Regions from separate parts of the Homo sapiens genome. Here region 1 is linked to region 2. A link means that fine-mapping ties the variant in region 2 to the expression of a gene that starts in the linked region. Tissue or cell type: whole blood. Region 2 holds a variant in brackets; the other region holds the start of a gene. All regions are shown on one strand. Distances are between the middles of the regions.

The links. PIP is the estimated chance that this variant, and not a neighbour inherited with it, causes the effect.
Region 1: TREML4 starts here. The variant in region 2 is fine-mapped to the expression of TREML4 in whole blood (TOPMed, PIP above 0.99).

What each region holds. Positions count from the first base shown.
Region 1 is chr6:41,223,393-41,231,497 of GRCh38, reverse strand. It overlaps TREML4 (triggering receptor expressed on myeloid cells like 4), which reads right to left and starts at 3,149. Exons shown (of 6, transcript NM_198153.3): 1 at 3,008-3,149; 2 at 2,454-2,784; 3 at 1,927-1,977; 4 at 1,376-1,436. The coding sequence starts at 3,070. LOC105375055 (a long non-coding RNA gene) reads right to left here. Exons shown (of 3, transcript XR_926794.3): 3 at 5,670-7,585.
Region 2 is chr6:41,186,262-41,194,366 of GRCh38, reverse strand. TREML2 (triggering receptor expressed on myeloid cells like 2) reads left to right here. Exons shown (of 5, transcript NM_024807.4): 4 at 1,466-1,566; 5 at 1,861-4,618. The coding sequence ends at 1,940. It overlaps LOC107986595 (a long non-coding RNA gene), which reads left to right and starts at 7,978. Exons shown (of 3, transcript XR_001744118.2): 1 at 7,978-8,105. RefSeq lists enhancers at 2,829-2,898, 2,517-3,024. The variant C/G (reference allele first, on the strand shown) is at 3,973.

The DNA.
Region 1 (8,105 bases), 37 kb before region 2:
TTCACAGGTTTCTATTGTTGGGTGTGTTTCCATTCTTTTAAGGTAGTGCTTCTACTAAGAGCCTAGGTATTTTGGCTTGTGAATTCAGATTCCACTGGGCATATTAGATACGGATCTGGTAATGGGGAAGAACCGAAGACTAAATCCTCTAGCCATTGAGGGTTAAAAATGAGAGGAAAAAGCCCTAAAGCAACAGTCCCCAACCTTTTTGGCGCCTGAGAACTGTTTTGTGGAAGACAAATTTTCCATGGACCTGAGAGTCGGGGATGGTTTCAGGATGATTAAAGCACATTATATTTATTGTGCACTTTATTTCTATTATTATCATGTTGTAATATATAATGAAATAATTATACAACTCAACATAATGTAGAATCTGTGGGAGCCCTGAACTTGATTTCCTACAACTGGGTGGTCCCATCTGGGAGTGATGGGAGACAGTGACAGATCATTAGCCATTCAATTATCATAAGGAGCGTGCAACCTAGAACCCTCGCATGCACAGTTCACAACAGGGCTCATGCTACTATGAGAATCCAATGCTGCCACTGATTTGACAGGAGGCAGAGCTCAGGCAGTAATGCAAGCTATGGAAAGAGGCTGTAATTCAAATGAACTTCAGTGGCTCACCACTCACTCCCTACTTTATGGCCCAATTTCTAACAGGCTTGGGGATCACTGCCCTAGAGCACAAGACCCCAGGGACCCCCATTAGCTGCCATACTTTTTCTCTGGTTAGGGTTTCACCTTCAAACTCCCTGAGAGATAGTCTGTTTGTAATCTACCCGTGCTGGAGTTTGCAGGAGAAGAGGGCTACGGAGCAAATGCTCTGGCAGTTAGTTGTCTATTTTCATCAATCGCTCATGTCTTTTGCTGTGCTCCATGGTCCCCTAGAGCACCTGTGACCTAGTCTATTGCAGCCTATTCCTCCAGTGAAGGGGAGGCCGTCATGGCCTCAAAACCCATGACTGCAAGAATAGAAGCAGAATTTAACAGTATGCCTCTCATCTTTCTCTGGCTGACATCTCCAGCCACCATCTGCCCCAGGCTGCAGTGACTCTATTCATACTCACCCCTCAACACACCAACACGGCCTCCAATTTCCACATTTTCTGGGTTCCATTTTGTTTTATTGCAGAAATCCATGTTGAACTGTCTTTTCCATGGTTCCTCCACAATTAACAACCTGCATCCTCTTCCCCTTTCCTCACTACCAAATTTTGAGTCATGGCCTGGGGGCTCCACGGCTGTAACCTATGCCCCAACCCACCAGAGAAGGATCCCTGGGTGCCCTGGACTTGATTCCAAGGTTCAGGAGCTAATCAGGCCCTCCCTTCCCAAGACCTCCCTCCCAGTGTTAAAACCTCTGACCTACCTGGTCTCAGAGCCATTGATGGAGGGATGGCCAGAGGTCCCCTCTGGAGAAGTGATCAGAACTAAAGAGGACACAAAGAAGACAGTGGCTGCCCAGGGCACCAGAATAGAGAATGGGATTGGGTCCCAAAAGTGTGAGAGGAAGGGGAGAGGGGCCAGAGGCAGCCCCTAAGGGTCCCTCAGGCTAAGGGTAACTGAGGCCTGAGATCTCCATAACCAGCTGAAGTCAAGTCTGGCACTGTCCTCTCCATGCTGGCGGGAGGACAGGGGCAGGAGGGCTGGGACACACGTGTGCAAGGTGTTCCATATGGACTTCCCTCTGGGGACACCCTCCCATCATCGTGAGAACATGGCGATCTTCTGATCACATCAGATAGTGCATGTTTCTCTCCCTAAGAGACAGTGGGCCCTGAAGGTAGCTTCCCACAAGCCCAGGCCCCAAGAGATCAGTCCTCAGAGGCAGGCCTCCCTGGTTTCCCCTTCCCTGAATCTGAGGCTCCCAAGCTGCCTGGTGACCCTTCTAATCTTCCCCCACCGAGGCCTCCAACCTACCTGTGCTTGTTGGGAGCCAGGGAAGAGTCCACATAGGAGACGTGGTTGGGGCTAAAGAGAAAAGACAGCAGACAATGACTCTCCAGGGGCCCAGAAGAGAGTAGGGTCTACCCCATACATAAGAGGAGGTAGGGGCCCAGAGCCAGACCCTCAGGATGTCTTAAGCCAGGAGTGGTCTGTGCCTAAGATCTGCATGACAGAGTTGTTGGTGTGTGTGTGTTAGTGTGTGTGTGAAAAGAAGAGTTGTGGGTGTGCCTGTGTAAGACAAAGAGAGACGCAGAGTGACAGACAGACTGTGTCTCTGTCCAGGGACCTCTGAGGGTACCTTCCCAACAATTGAGGCCAGGATGTACCGGGTGGAGGAGAGGTGAGAGTCCATGTTTGGGGACAGGATCTTTGCTCCCCTTGGACCACAGCAGAATACCTGGCAGGATGGGGGATGATAGAGGCATGGGAGGGGGTGCATGACATTTCCTTCAGGTCCCTGGGGGGTGGCACAGAGGTATTTCCTCAAGAAAAGAGCTCACCTGGAGACACCACCAGGCTGATATTTCTAAGAACAGTGATGATGTTTTCGGAAGCGTTGTAGATTCCACACCAGTAGAATCCCGAGTCATTCTGTGTCAGCTGAATCATGGTGATGTTGAAGAAGCCAGCATTGGGCTTGTCCCAGATTGTGTAATGAGACTTCTGAACTGCTGTCCAGGGCTTGGAGCTGGTGACAAGTAAGGTACACCGACTTGGAGATGTCTGCTGACACCAGGATTTGGGCTGATAGGGCCCTCTCTTGGGTGAGTACTGGCATTGCAGGAGGAGGGTCTGTCCTGGGTGTTTGTGAAGTTCTTCAGGCACAGCACCCTTTACCCAGGAACCGGCAGAAAGAAACCCAGGTCAGAGCTCTGAAGGGACCCAACCTCCCCCATCACAGGCTGGGGAAGGGGAGGGGGAACTAGTTCTGATGCCCACACATGGAAGAGGGCCCCTAAATTCTGTCCTATGGTCACACAGCCATGCTGCTCCCTGCCCCACTCATTCTTCATCCCACTCCTTACACCCCCTGCACTCTTTCCCTCCATGTCACCTGAGGCCAGGAGCAGCAGCAGCACAGGTGGAAGCAGCAGGTGTGGACCCCACCCCAGGCCATTCCAGCCCAGATCTGTTTCTGACAGCGGAGGAGAGGAGAAAAAAGGGAGCCCTCTCAGGAGGAGTCAGACGCTGGGTCTGATTCTGCCCCAGGTTCCCAGTGTCTCTCAGCTGGTAAAATTGAGGAAGTCAATGTCTTGCTGGGGAAATGGTCGGCCTGGGAGGGCGGGCTCTGCAGACCAGGGGAGGAGGGGCAGCCAGGCCTTGAAAGGGGCCACCAGCTACAGGGTCTGTCTCTGGGCCTGGGCACCTCAGCCCTGCTGTGTTGCTCTGCCGCCTTTCACTGAACTTCTCCCCATGTCTGCTGCTTTATGCCTTCCAGCCAGTCATACTGCTCCTCTATTGCTAGGGGCAGCTCTCAGCATGGCCAAGAATAAAGCTGGTGAATAAAGCTGGGGTCATCCCTCTTTCCTTCTCTCTGTGCACTTCCTATAGGTGGTCAGGGCCCTTGGAGGCACGACCAGACCCCTGAATCCTTCTGGTCTAGCCATGGTGGGTTGATGATGAGTTTTGACCCTGAGACATTTTGTAGAGGGCAGATTTTAATCCCAGGAATTACAAGATGTTCCCTGGAAATGGTGGGGCCAGGAAAGCAGGGAGGAAAGAGAGTGCTGGTCAGGGAAAGTTGGAGGGGAAGGCAGGTAGGAGTGGATCAGTTATGGTAGCTTGGGATCATCTCAATCAGTGCTTGTTGGATGAATACATCAGTGGATGAAAGAACAACGCGTGTGTAAAATGTACAGAAAAAGAAAATGGCCGAAGTGAGAACTATCTAGCAACAAAACCAAGTGGTACTGGATTACTACCCAATGTATATATTAAATCTCTAGGAGTCCATGCTGATGTAAGTAAATGACTGAATAAAGAACTGGGGGGGGGAATAGACAAATATCCCATGCATAAGGATTCTGCTGTGTTCAGAATGTTGTTCCCCCATCTCATATATTCAAACTTAATTTCCATGTGATAGCGTTAAGAGGTGGGATCTTGTGGGAAAATCTTAAGTCATGAGGGCGTCATCCTCAAGAATGCAATTAATGCCCTTATACCAGAGATTGCAGGAAGCAGATTTGCGCTGTCTGCCATATGAGGACAGTGTTCATGCCTTCAGTCAACTGAGGTTACTGCAAGAAAGCACCACCTTGGAAGCAGAGAGCAGCCCTCAGCAGATACCACATCCACTGACACCTTGATCTTTGACTTCCCAGACTCCAGAACTTTGAGAAAGAGATTTCTATTATTTAGAAAGTCTCCAGTCTAAGGCATCTTCTCATAGCAGCCTGAAGGGACTGAGAGAGATTGCAAACAATTCTTATAGGTATTCTGCCCTCAAGGCAGAAGCATAAATTCCCACGGCTTAAGCATGGGCTGTGCAGGTGACTTTCCTCCAGAGGATAGCATGGGAAGGAAGAGAAGAGTAACTGTACAGTGGAGAAACCTGACACTTACTGTGGCAGCCAGGCAACCAAAGTGCAGACCCACAGGGATAACTCAGGTTGTTAGAATGTGTCATTGACTTGATGTGATGACAGGGCAATTAGCTGTGCAGTCTCCTTCCCCAAAGCCGCTGGCCCCAGGAGAAAAACATCAAACAAATTCCACATGAGGGACATTCTACAAAATACCTGAGCAGCGTTCCTCAAAACTGTCAAGGCCATCAAAACTAAGAAATAATTCTCAGAAACTGCTATGAATAAGAGGAGCCTAAGCAGACATGAAGACTAAAAGCAATGTGGCTTCCTAGGTGGGATCCTGGAGCACAGAAAGTACATGAGGTAAAAGCCAGGGTAATCTGAATGAAGTAAGGACTTCAATTAATAAAATCTACCACAGAAACAGAGTAGAATGGCATTACCAGAGGCTGGGAATTGGACAAACTGGGTAGGTATTGTTGAAGAAACACAATATGTTAGACAGAAAAAATAAGTTCAAGAGATCTATTGCACAGTATGGTGAGTGCAGTTCATAACTATGAATTGTACAATTGAAAATGACAGAAAATAGATTTTAAATGTTCTCACCACAAAACAAGTAAGTATATGTGGTATTGCTTGATTTAGTAATTTCACAGTTAATACACACATCAAACTATCCTACCACGCATTATAAATATATGAGTTCTACTCATCAATTTTGTAAAATTATAGTAATGTATCAATATCAACTCATTAATTGTGAGAAATGTAGCATACTATTGGACTATATTAATAATAGAAGACATTGAACATAGCACATCAGGGAAGTATGCAATACCTACACAACTCTTCTGTGAATCTGAAAGCATTCTAAGTGTAAAAGATTAGTTTTAATATGTATAGAAACGATTTACACAAAGCATATGAATAATCACTTGATACATAACAAACAGCGTGTACATAACAAACAGCAAAGTTTTAAGAAATCTTAGTACGGCTAGGTGTAAAGCACCTACTAACACTTGATGGTAATAAGAGTCATTTTCTTAAACACACTGAAGTTTCTAAGAAAAGTATGATAAATTCTGGAAGAGGAAAATAGGAATTTATTCTCTGCATCTGTATCATTTGATGCCTTCAGTGTGATATGTCACACATAGTGTCCGATGTACTGATTGCTGTAAATGAAAATTTGTTACTATAACGTTTATACTACAGAATAGGGTTTATTTGGTGTAACAAGGCAAATACTATATTTTTACAAATAGCGTTTATTTGACATAACAAAGCAAATACTATATGTTTATTTTTCACTTAGTCATATTTGACTTTCATTGACAGCAAAAGAAACAACAAAACTTATAAATTTTAACTATTGTGATCTCAGTTTTGGCTGAGAGTATTCAGGTAGACACTGTGAACTCACTATATATTCATTGCCACCTCTTTCTTTCTTCCCTTCCTTCCTTCCTTCCTTCCTTCTTTCCTTCTCTCTCTTTTTCTTTCTCCTTCCTTCCTTCCTTCTTTTTTCTTTTCTTTTCTTTCTTTCTTTCTTTCTTTTTTCTTCTTCTGTCTCTCTTTTTCTTTTCTTGAGATGGAGTTTTACACTTTCGCCCAGGTTGCAGTGCAGTGGTGTGATCATGGCTCATTGCAGCCTTGACCTCCCAGGGCTCAAGTGATCCTCCCACCTCAGCCTCCTGAGTAGCTGGGAGTGTGGGCACACACCAATGCACCTTGTTATTATTATTATTATTGCTTTTCATAGAGACAACGTTTCACCATGTTGGCCAGGCTTGTCTTGAACTCCTGGACTCAAGAGATCCACCCAGCTTAGCCTCCCAGAGTGCTAGAATTACAGGTGTGAGCCACTATGAGTGGCTGCCACCTCTTTTTCATGGGTCTTTCTATAGTAAAAGGTCTACAAGATCATTTCTGATTCCTTTGCAGCTAGGGTTCCAGATATATTTTAGGTCCCACCCATTCAATGTATTTGTATGAGACTTAAATGAGGAAGTGAGCTAGAATGGGAAGAGAGGCATCCATTGTGCCGGTAGACTATGGGTGAGATGGAGGGGTTCTTTAGCCAGGGCTGTGATGGCAGCTTCCAGATTTGGAAAGTTGCCTGATTTGGAAAGGGTGTTGACTGTGGCAAAGGCAGTGGTCCCTTAGTAGCCCATCCTGTGGCTTTAAGAGTGATGCCCAGAAATTACATAGGATCTGATTCTGTAAAGCATTTAATGTTTGATTTTAAAAATCTCTTTCTCCTTAAAATCCGTAGCTTGGATTTTGTAGTTTGCAGCTAAATCTTGACTAATGCAAGTCCCAAGAAAATATATGCTATCTGTCAGAGTGAGGTGGGAGGCCAGTGTGAAGCACATGCCAAAAGGTATTGAAACCTTCTTTGAGGAATGAATCCCTCACACACATCAAGGGTAGAAAGTTGTGAGGAGTGTGAAGATTGGGAGAGGACTTTTGGAGACAGCTGGTAGTTGTGCTGTGACCCTGGGGGAGGAGAGGGTTAGATTCCTGCATCTTATCTCAAACCTAGGGAGAGGCTTGAGATAGGGTCACAACTTGGAAAGATGGTTGTGGCCCCTGCAGTCTGGGAGATGTAGCAGCTGAGTTGGATTCAGTCTGAGAGCTGTATTGGGTAGAGACAGCAGGCGGCAAGCTGTCCTGATGGTGGAATGGAGGAGAGGTGACCTTGTGGGGGCCCCCAGGCTCCATGACTTTGTTGGGGTGAAGGAAGTGGATGGCTTCCGTGGGCCAGATGTTGGGCTGCACAGATGTGAGGCACCCAGCATGGGTGGTTGTAGATCCCACCCAAAAGGCCTGCTGGAGGTGGAGGGACGCATGGCAGGAAGCTGGAAGTGGACTGCGAAAGGCTTGGAGGCTGAAGGAGATGTCAGGAGCACCCACCAGGAAGGAGATCCAAGGCTACATGAGGAAGCTGCAGGTGACAGGCAGGGTGTCATCGGAAGAGCCCACAACGGTGCCCTCTGAGAAACCTCAGCTTGAACTCTTTGGGTCATCACCAGACTTTCCTGACCCTTCCTCTTCTCCTCTCCATGCTCCAGGCCTGGAGGCTTCCCAAACTGCAGCTGGAGGGCAGAGAAGACCAAGTAAAGAAAGGAAAGCCAACGTGGGCCCTCTGCCCTCTGAGGGTTAAAATTCCGAGGCTTTGGGGAAGAAGCTTTATTTTACATGGAGCCCTTTTTCCTCCACACTAATCACTGAACTGAAGCCAGTTTTGGAATAACCTTTTCCCTATTTATAAACAGAGGGGATGAACGAGGGAGCACAGGGGATTTGGAGGGCAGTGGGGCAACTGTGTGATCCCACAATGATGAGTTGATGTCATCACACGTCTGTCAAAGCACAGACAGCGCGTGCTCAGCAGCAAAAGTGAGCCCTCAGGACGGTTGTGTGCTTGATGACAGGACAGGGTGCCTCAATGTAGGGTAGCCGGCTGTAACAGCCGGACCCCTGGGCAGGATGTGGATAGTGGGGGGCTGTGCATGTGAGGAGCAGGAGGTATACGGGAACTCTATGTACTTTCTCTCATTGTTTTGAGAACCTAAACTGCTCTAAAAACAAGTTGATTACTTAAACTCCCCAGAA
Region 2 (8,105 bases):
GGTGCAAGTCTTATATCTGACCTTCCCCTTTTGCTCCCCAGGAACCCAATGTGGCCTGCTTCTGAATGTGAGGTGGGGGACTGGAAGTGACATAAAGGATGGCAATGGAGAGGAGGGGCAGGAGAGAGGAGGGGCAGGGGAAAGGAGGGTCGGGGGTGGGGAGGAGGGGCAGGGGAAAGGAGGGTCAGTGGGGAGGAGGGGCAGGGGAAAGAAGGGTGGGGACAGGAGGGACAGGGGAAAGGAGGGTCGGGGGAGGAGGATCAGGGAGGAGGAAGGTCAGGTGAAAGGAGGATCAGGAAGGATGAGGGTCAGTGGGGAGCGGAGTTGGTGGGAGGAAGGTGGGGGAAGTGTCAGCAGAGAGGAGGGTCGGGATAAAGGTAGGGGGAGATGAGGGTTGCAGGGATGAGGGCAGGGGACTATGAGAGTCGGGGGCATTAGGGTCAGGGGGATGAGGATGGGGGTAAATGAAGGTTGTGGGGGAGGAGAGTCAGAGAAGAAGGTCAGTGGGAGGAGTATCAGGGGAGAGGGGGGCTGCAGAGATGAGGGTAGGGGGCAATGAGAGTTGGTAGAATTAGGGCCAGGGGGGATGAGAGTCAGAGATGAGCATGTCAGGGGATGGGTGTCCTGAAGTGTCTGTGGATGGAGAGGAGAGGGTGAGGATAGGGCAAGGATGCGCCTCATGGAGTAGGAAGTGGAAAATGGGGGATGCTTTAATTTGGATTCCTCTAGAGAAACTGACTCTGAGTCAGGGATTTGCGTCTTATATGAACACTGGAAAAAAGGTGGGGGAGTGGGACAGGGCAGGGAAGGCCTCTAATAAAGAGTACTTAACCAAGCAGCTGCTGTGCACAACAAGAGCCTAATCCCAACGGGGAGAGTCAGATCTAGCATAAAACACACATCTGAAGGGCAAAGGAGCCCGCATAGTTACACACCAACTCCAATTGGTTATCAGTAGAGGGCTGCCTGCTGTGTGTGGCATAGAGGGCTCTAGTGACAAGAGAAAGGCCTCAGCCTCCCACCCACAGAAAAGGAGGTGCTGATGATGTGTGCAGGTGGAAATGACACAGGCAAGAGGACACAGGCAGGGGCCCGACAGCATCTGCTACAGAGGATAGAGTGGGGGAACAGGCATCCTCAGACCCCTTGAGGAGAGCAAGCATCTTGATCTCTTTAGCCACAAATGGGAGTCTCCTAGAATCCTCATCCTCACTGATGAACAGATTTGGGGGCATAATGGAGGAGAGGTACCAAAGTAGAGAGATGTTCCCCTCTACCTGGGGACGTCCTCCTCTTAACTCCGGATGTCACACTTGCTTCTGTGGCCGGGTCTGTAAGGAAGAGGGTGGCCGTCTACCCCGGGAAGGGCACGCTCTCAGGGTTTCTGCTGCTGGTCCGATCCCAACGTGGGTTAGGATGGGGGACCTTGGTGCTCACCCGCTTCCACCCTGTCCCTTCTTCTCAGGCACCAGGATGTTTACTCCACTGTGCTTGGGGTGGTGCTGACCCTCCTGGTGCTGATGCTGATCATGGTCTATGGGTTTTGGAAGAAGAGACACATGGCAAGTGAGTAGAGCCCACCTCCCAGCCTCCTGAGGGCAGAGCTCTGGGTAACTGCACTAAGGGTTATGACCTCGAGTCCCCACGTGGTATGGCCCTTGGCCTGTGTCCAGTCAAAAGGACTATGACGCTTCCACCTGGGGAGGAGGGCGGCCAGGCGGAGACCACCCAGCACAACCCTAAGGGGATGACCTGGAAGGAACCAGAGGCAGAGCCAGAAAGGGGCTGGGGCTGGTGGAGGAGCATCGGGGCACCGTGGGCAGGGCAGGACACTTCCTCAGCTCTCCCTGTTTCTTGCAGGCTACAGCATGTGCAGCGATCCTTCTACACGTGACCCACCTGGAAGACCAGAGCCCTATGTGGAAGTCTACTTGATCTGAGGCCACTTAAGCATGGGGTGGGGAGCTTCTCCCAGAGTGGCCCCAGGGGGTTAGAGGAGGGGTGAAGATTGGGGCCAGTATCGATCTTATGAAGCTGGAGGACTTGTGCAGTGCTGGACTCACCCAGGACTTCCCAAACCCAGAGGCTGCCATCCTAAGCAGCCCCACAGCCCAGTGTTCTCCTTGGGGGCAGGAACCTGGGGAGGGGCCCAGAGCAAAGGGCATCAGGGAGAAAGTCCCGAGGAAATGTGACCAGTGGTTTCTGCTCGGAGCTGCAGACCCCAGGGCTCTTGGTGGAGGCAGGGGAACCCTGAGAGTGCTGTTTACAGAGAACCTCAGCTCCCGTCTGCCTCAGAAACCCTATTGGGCTGAGCTGCCCTCCCCACCAGGGCCACTGTGTCCTCTGCTTCCCTCCGTTCTGCTTCAGCTTCCCCTAAGGTTAGGGAAGAAAGAATCGGGCTCACGAATGCCAGAGGCAGTGATGTCCCATCCTGGAGGAGAGGAAACAGTGACTAAAAGCTGGGGACCCACAGAGGGGTTGGCAGCTTCTCTTGTCGGGACAGGTGTCCTTTGCTGGGCCTCTGGATGGCCCTGCCCTGACTGGGGCTGCTCCTCCCTCCTGTCCTGGGACCGCGCAGAGCCCACGCTCTCACTGCTGCCTCCTGCTGGCCGCTGCCTCCTTAGAAAGCTGTGACCAGGCAGCTAAGAGCCTCTGGGCTGCAGGGTCAGCCTCTCCCAAGACTGAAGTGCAGAGGCTGGACTTGGGGCTCTCTCCCCCAGCTTCTACACCTGGGCTCCAAGTCTGAGTTCCCACAGGGGACCCAGCAGCCTCCAGGAAGTCCATACCCTGGGGTGGCTGAGACCTTGGCTCTGTATGGAGGCTGCTCACCCCACAGACACTGGTGGGGAGACCATGGCTCAGAGGAAGGGTGGAGCAACCCTCCTCCTACCCCTCAGGATAGAGAGAGAAGACACACTTGGGACACAGTGAAGACAGTAACTTGGAACTGACCACGGCCTGGAGGACTGGCCCAGGCAGGGGGACAGGGAAAATGGAGCCCAAGTAGCCTCTGGCCAGGGACCCAATGTCCCGAGGAATCTGCCTCCCACCCACTGACTCAGGGCTCAGACTCAGCCTCTATTGTCCAGAGCACTGGCTTGGCGTCCAGCAATGAAGGCTGGAGAATGCAGCCTGGATTCCCCTACACACACACACACACACACACACACACACACACACACACACACACACACACAGGTGTCTACTGACCTGGAGTGACTGGAATAGCACCTGGGGATAAATGTGACAACTGTGCATTGAACCCTGGGTCAGGGACGTTCCAATGGCCAAGAGAGTGACACAGCCAGGACCCTGGTGGACAGCCAGAGGGGCCACTTCAGGATGGATGTGGGGAGAGTGGAAGAGGCAGGGAGTAATCCTGGGGGACAGCAGGGAGGAGGCACTTCTTCCCTATGTCCAGGAGAGGGCAATAGAGGGAAGACTGAGGCTGAAGAATTGACGGCTCTGGACCCAGGACAGACAGACAGACAGACAGACAGACAGACAGACAGACACGCACACACACCCATCTCTGTCTAGCAAGCAGCCTCCTAAGATAGCTGTTCTCCCTATCATGACGGTGTAGCCACCATCCTGTTGTATACTAGGAGAGAACTTAACCCACCTGGGGGAAAATAGCTCCCCAAGAGCTGGCACCAGTACCACTGATGGCCCTGCTTCCTCTGAGTGAGATGCCCAGGAGGAGGAGCCCTAGGGAAGAAGTCAGGGACAGGGACCAGGATACCACTCTGTCACTGTGTGACCCTCAGCAAGTCACTAACCCTTGGCCTCATTTTTCCTGTCTTGTGAAAGAGGACAATAATTCCTACTTCTCAAGATTGTTTTCAAGATAAAATAACATTAGCATTGTACAATGATGCAAATGCCTCATTACCATTATTCCTTAAGTTGTTTTCCAGCTCTAATGTTGTTTCCAACATTACATTTAAGACCTTAGGATTCTGTTTCTTG[C/G]TTTTGTCATATCTCTTCCCAAGTGTCATCACTATATGGATGTTGAGGGCCCCCGATGACAGTCCCTTTGGTAAGGTCCTCTTTTGAGGAGGGGAGGGTACAGGGTGGACTCATCTCAGTGTGAACTTGGCAAGTCACTGTCCCTCTCTGATCTTGTTTCCTCATCTGGAGAAGGAGTGAGAGAGGAGAAAGGAAGAAACCAGTCAGGCAGGCAGTTAGGGTGGGTTCTCGGTAGAATTCTTTTAAACAAAAGAACAGCCTGAAAAATCAAGCTGCAGGCACAGATATGGGAACTTGCACAGGGGGGCTTGCCTAAGACATGCCCACAGCCTCATAGATAAGACAGACTACACAGGTGACTTGCCCAAACATGCCTGCAATGGAAAATTTCATCCCCTGACATGTGCAGTAAGGGGAACAAAGCAATATGGAGTAAGTAACTCAAGCCAAGGGCCCACATGTACATTAGAAGGACAGCAGGGAGCTACCAGAAATTCATGCCTTATGCAGATGAGCTGCCCAGTCCTCATCGGTTTCTTATAAAAGCCTTTACATTCAACTGTAAAAATGGCAACCCTCTTTCAGGCCTCCTCTCCACAGCAGAGAGCTTTCTTCTCTCACTCATTAAACTTTCACTCCAACCTCATCCTTGGTGTCCACGCTCCTTAATTTTCATTGTTGTGAGACAAAGAACTCCAGTGATACCTCAAACAATGAGAGACTGCTACATTGTGGTGCACTGGTGAGACTGTAACAGGAGGGTGGAGAGGAGCTCTGAAGCCTCTTCTGACTTCCTTGGGTATGTGTGTCAGAGGTGTTTAAACCAGATGGACTCCATCTTGTATAGAGGCTGAGTAAAATAAGGCTGAGACCTACCGGGTTGCCTTCCCAGATGTTAGGCATTCTAAGTCACAGGGTGAGATAGGTTGACACAAGATACAGGTCATAAAGACCTTGCTGATAAAACAGGTTTGCAGTAAAGAAATCAGCTAAAACCCACCAAAACCAAGATGGCAATGAGAGTGACCTCTGGCTGTCCTCACTGCACATTATATGCAAATTATAATGCATTAGCATGATAAGAGACACTCCCACCAGCACCATGTCAGCTTACAAATGCCATGGCAACATCAGGAAGTTACCTTATATGGTCTGAAAAGAGGAGGAACCCTCAGCTCCAGGAATTGCCCACCCCTTTCCTGGAAAACTCATGAATAATCCACCCCTTGTTTAGCATATAATCAAGAAGTAACAATAAATATAAGCAGCTAAGCAGCCCATGTTGCTGCTCTGCCTATAGAGTAGCCATTCTTTATTCCTTTACTTTTTAAATAAACTTGCTTTCATTTTACCATATGCATTTACCCTGAATTCTTTCTTGCATGAGATCCAAGAACCCTCTCTTGGGGTCTGGATCGGGATCCCTTTCCAGTAACATGTGCAGAACAGTTGCATGGACACAGCTCAGCATTAATGAGGTGGGGCACACCGGAAAAGAACAAGAACCAGCCCTGGCCTCAATCTGCTCACAGCCTCTGAGGGAAGGGAGACATGGCACTGCTGGGTACACCCCAGACCTTAGCACAGGGTAAGACACCACAGTGCAAGAGATAGGAGGTTCTCAAGTCCTTCCAAGATGGGGAACTGGGAATCCTGCAGGCTCTGGCTAGCCAGGCAGGCTTCAGGGAGGAGGTGGGGCTCTATCTGAGGCGCAAACCACAGGGTGGAGTCAGGAGGTGAGATCTAGGTGCAGAGACTGCACAGGCCATGGCAGCTGGGAGCCATGGGGAGGCTTGACGAGAAGGGCTGTGGAGGGTGGAAGGGGACATGGCCACTCACCAGCTGGTTGCTGAACCCAAGCAGAGGCCTTTAGCTGTGTCCTGAAGTAGAGCACGGTAGCTGTGAGGGTGACCAACTGTCCCTGTATGCCCCTGAGGGGTTCCTGGAACCAAGTGAACCAGCACAATTTGCTCACCCTAGGAGCCTGCTCCCATATGAACTCCCATGGTAAGGACACGGGGGCTGAGGAGCTATAGACCAAGCCCCATATCCCCAGCCCCAACTGGACACTTTCCTAAACACACCAGCCTTTCACTTCCTCCCTCCTCTCTCAACCTTCTTCTCGAAGCTCCAGGGACCCAGATCCACAGCAGATCCACGGCAGGAAGGTGCAGGGCAGGTGGGGCATCGGACAGGCTGCTCACTTTAGCAGGTGAGACAATAAAGCTTCCTGAGCAACAGGCTGTGGACATAGAACACACACCTGGGAAGGGCTGGCCATCATGGCCAATGGAAGAACAAATAAAGTAAATCCAGTACCTCCTGGATATACACACACCTGCATGGAGCCCAGCAAGCAGGCATTAGGTTTACAGTTCTCTTCAATGGCTGCAACATGCTTTCACTCTGGATCAAATTGAGAGAGTGGATGCCGTGCTGCCAGCTCCTCATGTGGGACTGATGGACATTAGGAGTGGTGAGGGCAGGTCTCCTCTGCCAGCTTCTCTGGGGTCTTCCTCAGCTGCAGAAAGCCACCTTGCCAAGGCCAGACTCCCCTCCCAGGACACCCCACCTCCCCTGACTGACAAGTCCTGAAGGGCCATCCTGTCTTAGGAACTCCTCCCAGGATAGCCTGAGTCTCCTTATGGCCTCTATTGCAGCCTGACTTCTCCTTCTGCCTGTGAAAGGAAAATAAATCTCAGAACCCCAAAATCACTAAGCCAGGGGAAAAATCAAGCTGGGAACTACAGCAGGCAAACTGGCCTCGCATTTTATTCCTAAATAAGATAGCTACAAAGATTAAAAAACTATGTACCTCCCTCACAATTTGCCCACAAGACAATTCTTTGTGGGCCTTGAGATCTTTACCCTAAAACAGTTCTGTTGATTTTCACCCTGGCAATGTAAACTGCTAGCTGGTCTTCACAGGTGCAGGAAAGAAAGTTATCCCTCTGCTTGCCTAGGACAAATGCGTATCTGATTGCTTCTCTGCCCTATTGTTTATGTAAAAATGCAGATTCACTGAGCCAGACTAAATTGTGTGTTCAGTGAAAGACTGATAGAGGACTTAAAAGAATGCAACCTTTTGTCTCTTATCTATCTACGACTTGGAAGCCGCCTTTCCCACTGCCCCGTCCACACAAACCCTGGACCAAATGCACATTGGTCCAGACCGAGTCGATATACATCTTACATATAATTATTGATGCCTCACGTCTCCCTAACATGTATAAAAACAAGCTGTGCCCCAACCACCTTGGGCACATGTCTTCAGGGCTCCTGAGACTATTATAGGCATGTCCTTAACCTTGGCAAAGTAGACTTTCTGAATTGATTGAGGCCTCTCTCTGATATTTTGGATTCACATGCCCCATCCTGCTTCCTGCTCTTCTCTTCCCCAGATGTTGGTCCCAGAGCGCTTTAAACCTCCAGTGCTAATCTGCAGCTGACTCTGTGCCCAGGAACCCAACCTGCAGCACCACGGTTTATAGTTTTTCTTTTCTTTGTTGTTTATTAACTGTCAATCGCCTGTGACAATTGATTTTCTATAGTTCATCTAAGGACAATTATTTTTAAATGTGTTTGATTAGTGTCATCTTTCATCAAAGGCTCTGGAGTGATTATGGCAGCTCAGAGCTGGGGAAGGAGATGATCTGGGGACTGAGATACCCTTTCCCCTCCTCCTCCCTTCCCCATCTTCCCCTCCCCAGGCTTTACTCTCTCCCACCTTTGCCATAGACACCCCCTGCACCTCCATTCCTGGAAGTGAATCTCCATCTCTTTTCTCCTCTTCCCCTCCTGTTGACATGGAACTCCCCGGTTCCAGGCAGGCCTGGTCATGAAGTCTCTGACCCCTGGGAGCCAATGGGTCTTCAGGTTCTAGTCAGACCTCCAAAAGGCTCCCTAACACTGTCACTCACCTTCAGCCTGTGTGTTAGCTGGGTGAGGAAGAGAAACTTCAGGCTGGGGAGGAAGTGGTAGAATAGAGGGGAGAGAGGAGAAAGAGGTTTTTATTTCGCCATAGTTTCCTCCTGGACTTTCTCAGCTTTTCCCACCCCAGCGCCAGTGGGAGGGAGGTGGCCTGACAAGTGGGAAGAGGCTGGGGCCAGAGGAAACCAGCAGGAGCTACAGAG